2 separate regions of the Homo sapiens genome follow, and region 1 is linked to region 2. The links come from fine-mapping of genetic effects on gene expression. A gene starts in region 2. The other region holds a variant in brackets. All regions are shown on one strand. Distances are from middle to middle. Region 1 overlaps CMKLR1 (chemerin chemokine-like receptor 1). Region 2 holds the start of CMKLR1 (chemerin chemokine-like receptor 1).

Region 1 (2,905 bases), 23 kb before region 2:
TGCCCAAGCTGGTCTTGAATTTCTGGCCTCAAGCTATCCTCCCACTTTGCTTCCCAAAGTGCTGGGCTTACCATCATGTTCCATCATGCCCAGCCCGAGGGACATCATTCTCTATGGCCCAGGCTCGAACACAGCCTTGTTTTTTTTTTTTTTTTTTTTGAGACGGAGTTTTGCTCTTGTTGCCCAGGCTGGAGTGCAATGGCGCAATCTCAGCTCACCGCAATATCCACCTCCCAGGTTCAATCGATTCTCCTGCTTCAGCCTCCCAAGTAGCTGAGATTACAGGCATGCGCCACCACACCTGGCTGATTTTGTATTTTTAGCAGTGATGGGGTTTCTCCATGTTGGTCAGGCTGGTCTCAGGTGATCCACCTGCCTCGGCCTCCCAAAGTGCTGGGATTACAGGTGTGAGCCACTGCACCCAGCCCAAACACAGTCTTTCTCCACACCAGCTGGGGGTGGGCCTGGGGCATCCTTATACTCACCTATCTGTGAACATATTTTATGAAACAGACAATCATGACAAAGACATACTTGATACACAGGTAGAGTGACCCTCCATCCTGGCTTGCCCACAACAATCCCTGTTTATGCTTCTTGTCATGTTCCTTTCATTCTCAAAGTGCCCCAGTCAGGACAATAAATCCTACAGTTTCCCTACTCATAGATTACTCCCTCCTCTGGCCTAGAAGCTCCTGTGTACTAGCCTTGCCCACCTACTTGTGCCAGGCCCTAAGCTAAGCACACGTCCTGTGTCATTAAATTCCCATAAGGGTCCTGTGAGGCAGGTACCACCATGATCCCCATTTGACAGATGAGAAAATGGAGGCTCAGAAAGGCTGTGGCTGCTGTTTCAGGAGGTAGCCATGTGCCAGGAACTTTCCAGGATTTAAACACCAGCTGGTTCTGCACAGATGGCTACTTTCACTACCTCTATTTTCCAGATGCAAAGACTGAGCCTTAGTTCACTGATAAAAGGGTGGCTTACCAAAGCCCCTATGGTTTCAGCCAGGAAAGGACCACAGAATGTCCAAATTTCAGAGTCAGCTTCCTTCAATCCGGGCTCATGAGCTGTGGGTCCCTGGGCAAGTGACATGGCCTCTCTGAGCCTTGATTTATCTCATTGGTAAAATGAAGATGAATCTTGCTGCTTACTGTTGGGTGAGTGAGGAGCAGACGCAGGACCAGCACTTGGACCCTGCGCCTCAGCCCAGCTCTTACAGCTCTAAGAGGAGGGGATGTGTTCCCCCCAGGAAGTTCATAATCCTCAGCAGAAACAGTGCATACTTCATGGAGTCACTGCAAAATGAAAATGCAGCCCCTTATTCAAAAATTACTGAGAATTCAGGACAGCAACTGCCAAGTGTTAAACAAAGCACAGGCCTTCTGAGCCCTGTGTGGCTGCACTGGTCGCCAGCCTGAGATGCTGGCCCTGCCCCTCAGCTCTAGGGAATTTGAGGGAAGAGCCCTCTTCACTTCAGGCCCCAGCAGGGCAGGGGCTCGGCGGGATAGGTGATCTTAGGAGGGAGGAAGAAGCAGCACAGCCAAGAAAGAGCAGAGAGAACAGAGGATGACACCTCCTCAACGTAGACAGAAAGAGAGGGGGAAGAGGGGCAGGGAGAGGAAAGCCAGCAGGAAGAGGAGAGA[C/T]GCACAGGGACTGGAAAAAGGAGGACAGAGCGGTCAGGGCAAAGCAGCAAAGTGGCAGAAGAAAGACGAAGGCAGGGTGAAGAAAGTCCCCAGGAAGAGAGACCCAGAGGCAAGAAGAAAGGGACAAGGCTAAAAGGAGTCTTCTGCCAACCTCTGAGAAGGTTTAACAAGACCCCATGGAGCCACCCGGTGTGGGCAGGGAGGGGCCCCATGAATAGCTGTCCTCCTGGGGTGAGGGCCATTTGCTATTGCATTTGCATACATTTAAAAGCACAGGAAAGGCAGTGCTGGGGATTTCCAAAATCCCCAAAGATCAGGGAGCTACGGGCAAGGTGTCAACCCCATAGCAGAAATGGGTGGGGCTTTTGCTTTGGGATGGAAAGCCACAGGCACCGGTTGGAACCGCCAGTGGGAGCTCAATCACAGCTCACTGCAGCCTCAACCTCCCTGGGCTCAAGTGATCCTCCCACTTCAGCCTCCTGAGTAGCTAGGACTACTACAGGCATACACCACCACACCCCACTAATTTTTTTTGTATTTTGTAGAGATGGGGTTTCGCCATGTTGGCCAAGCTGGTCTCCAACTCCTGGACTCAAGTGATCCACCCACCTCAGCCTTCCAAAGGGCTGGGAATACAGGCATGAGCCACTGTACCCAGCCTCAATGTCATTGGTTGATTTTAACAGGAAAAGGTGTGATTTAACACACAGCCTGTTTGGTGGTGGGCTGGAGGCAGTGTTTGGGAAGGTCCTGGCAGACACAAGATGAGCTGAAAGCCATCCCAAGCAGTTCTCTTCATTGAGCATGGGTTTCAGTCATTATGTGCTCTAGAGGTTCTCTTCATCCATGGTTATTAGTGTCAAGGAGAGCCCACAAGAACGCATTGTTTTCCCTACAAACATTTCACCAAGAGCTTGGAATGAAATGGCAGGTCCACTATGAGACATAGGTATTGACTACCCATGGCCTCAGGAGGCCACCAGGAGTGCATCACGGTCATGAGGATGATGTGGACACTGGAGGGAGGGGTGGGCTCTGTGTAAACCCCACAGGACTCTCTCAGCTGGTTCAAAGTGGGCCAAAGGTGGCCTCATTCTGACATCAAGGAAAGCCGTAGTCAGCTGGGCAATAAATCCAGCTAGTTTGAAAACTCCAAATGTGCTTATGTCACAATCAAGGAGAAAATAGGAATGAAAACCACGGGCCTTAGAATTTACAACACACATACTATTCACATAATAACACTGTTAGCCTAACA
Region 2 (2,905 bases):
GACCTCAGACCAGTGATCTGGCATCTCTGAACCGCACAGGTCTGAGTGATTGGGCTTATATCAAGTAGTAGTTCCCTGATGTTGTAATGCTTATAATTTTGCCAAAGCTGGCTTGCCCATTTAAAATGGGCTATTCTGAAGACAGAGGAGGGAGTGGAATATTTTCAACAGAGAGTGCCGGCAAAGGTTTTGTGTCCTTTATATACAAAGAACCCTTAGATATCAATTGGAAAAAGATAAACATGCCCCCAGAGGAGAAAAAAATGGGAACAGACTTGAACAGGAGAGTCAGACTAGAAATGTGAAAAATAAGTTTATAAAAGAGAATCAACACTAACAAAGAAATGAAATGCCTATTGAAGCATCTAGATATTATTCTCGACTTCACATCAGGGAAAGTTTAAGGGATGGGTAGCAACAAGGTGGGTTTAGTATGTGAGAATACTGTGCCCTGGTATAACATCGTAGAGAGGTCAAGCTGCCACGGCCTTCCAGGGTGCAGTGTGACCAAAAGCTCAGAAGTCTTAAAAATAGGCAAACCTTAAATCTAGCAATTTCTAAAAGGTATTCATAAGACACACACACAAAGATGTCATACTAAATATTCATTGCAGCACTGTTCTAATAAAAAAAAAGAAGCAAATCTATTATGGAAAAGTCAAATAATCTTAAGATAGCCTTTCTATGCAGCCATGAAAAATGTATATTGGAAGAATATAGGTGATATGGAAAAAAGTTCACAATCTGTGGTTAAGCAGGTTACCAAACTAGATGTGGAAATCCACATTCATATATTTAGTTGTGTATCCTTGCTATTTCTTTAAACAATGAACATGCATTACTTTTGACATCTGAAAATAATAACAAAACTCTTCCTTTTAACAAATATGAAATTATAAAAAGAAACAAACTTTTCTCTCTGTTAGTATTCATTCCCCTTCCCTGGCCCCCCTCAGAAGACACCCAAGGCAAGTGTGTGATGATACCTTCCCTCTGGTCTCTGCCCGGAAGGTCTTCCTGAGGGTTCCCTGTGACTGCAGGCCACTCGAGGCTGTTGGGGAGACTTGCACACCCTGGCTTCTTTCTGCCAATCACAGGCTCCTCTGGCTGTGGCTGTTTGCCCAGAAAGCAGTTCATTCATTTGTTCATTCAAGATCCCCCTCTGAACCCCCAGAGCGCCGCAGCTGGAACACCCCTATCACCCGGAGGCTTCCCAGGGAGCCTGCTCTGTCCTGAGCTCCCTGCTGGCCGCCGGGGCTGCTTCCCTGAATGGGACTGGGACAGAACTCAGCCAGAGAAACAGCTGGAGGGAGGAGAGCAGGAGGGAGGGGCAGGAAACTGGGCTGACCTAGGGCGGGGGCGGCTAGCTGCGTGGAGAGGGGGCTGCGAGGGGAGGGTGCCCCTACCAGCCGGGGACTGGGCTTGTGGGTGGCGGCGGGGGCCCGCTGGGGACGACCCGCCCCTCTGGCAGCCTCTTGCAGCCGGGGAGCCGTGCCCACTGAGCGCAAACAGGGAGCACATCTGAGCACCCGGCTGCTGGGGGAAGTGCAAGCGCCTCTGCTCCCGGTGAGGGGCTCAAGCTCCACACTGACCGAGAGATTGGCTGCCTCTCACCCTGGGCCTTTGCAACGCTGTTCCTCCCACCTGGATGCTATTCCTGCCCTAATTCGTGGCCCGATGGTCTCCTACTGCCTCTTCAGGTCTCAGGTTGAAGGTCACCTCCCAGGGAAGCCTTCCCCAACCCTCGGGGGCTGCTGTGCCCCTCAGGGTCACCCCATCACCTCACTGATGCAGTGCTGTCCTTGCCTGTTAAGATGTCTCTCTCCTTGCACCGAGAACTCCTTGCACCAGGAACTCTGTAGGGAAAGAACTGTATTCTGTTCCCTGCCCTAACCAGGCGCTAAGTGCCTGGTTCATCGGCTGTGTGGTCACCATCATTAGTGGAATAATCAAAACAACCGACAGCCAGGCAGCGTGCTAGGCGATGCGTACTTACTCTTCACGGCAACCCTAGATAACAGGAATTATTACTACTCCAGTCTTACCAATAAGGAAACTGGGGTACAGAGAGATTAAGTCACTTGCTCAAGACCACACCGCCAGCAGCTGACAGAGCTGGGATTCCAACTATGTTGTCTGGCTCGGAGGCCCACCCTTGGCCTCCAGACTGAAGAAATAACAGAAGTGCCCATGTGGGCCCCTGTGCCAAGTGCTTCCATGGAGTAAGCCGTGTGAACCACCACCCACGTCGGGGGGGCATCACTTGCCCATTCTACACATGAGGATGCTAGGGCCACAGAGCAGAAGTCGTTTTGCCCAGGGCGCCAAGCTCATGCTGACCGAGCCATGGCTGGATCTGAGTCTGTCTGATTCCAAAGCCAAGACTGCCTACGACTGCCTAAAATAATATTTTTAGAAAGAAAAAGAAAAGGGAAGGGCAGGGGAGGGGAAGAGAGGGGAAGGGAGGAGAAGAAAGAAAGGAAGAAAAGGGAGGGCAGGGAGGAAGGTAATGGGGAGGAGGGGAAGGTGAAGGGAGAGGGAGATGGGGAGGGAGGGAGAGAAGGAGAGAAACCTGTGTTTTGGGCCTCAAAGTCTTGGGCAGGTGGAGGACTATGTCCTCATCGTCTGATCAGCCTTAGAACCCCACCGACCTCTCCCCACCATCCTCAATCCTTTAATTCAGTGAGCTTTACACTTAGAAACCATCTAATTTCATTCTTCCATTTCACAGATAACTTGAAGCCCAGAGAGATTGAGTCTCTTGCCTGAGGTCACACAGGTCTCTATAGTCAGAAGTCAGGCCCAGTCTACCCAACTGTCTTCCTTGCTCTCTTCTTCTTTGGGCTTATCTAGGGAACAAAACATCATATCGAAACACTTACTGTACAGATGAGAACACTGAACC

Evidence for each region. PIP is the estimated chance that this variant, and not a neighbour inherited with it, causes the effect.
Region 1: its variant is fine-mapped to the expression of CMKLR1 in whole blood (INTERVAL, PIP above 0.99).

The regions. Positions count from the first base shown.
Region 1 is chr12:108,314,796-108,317,700 of GRCh38, forward strand. The region is part of intron 2 of CMKLR1 (chemerin chemokine-like receptor 1); the gene reads right to left. Among named protein-coding and RNA genes, the nearest start is that of CMKLR1, 23 kb to the right of the region's middle. RefSeq lists silencers at 1,337-1,631, 1,737-2,031 and an enhancer at 1,747-2,265. The variant C/T (reference allele first, on the strand shown) is at 1,648.
Region 2 is chr12:108,338,041-108,340,945 of GRCh38, forward strand. It overlaps CMKLR1 (chemerin chemokine-like receptor 1), which reads right to left and starts at 1,271. Exons shown (of 4, transcript NM_001142343.2): 1 at 987-1,271. RefSeq lists an enhancer at 704-1,327 and a silencer at 1,435-1,554.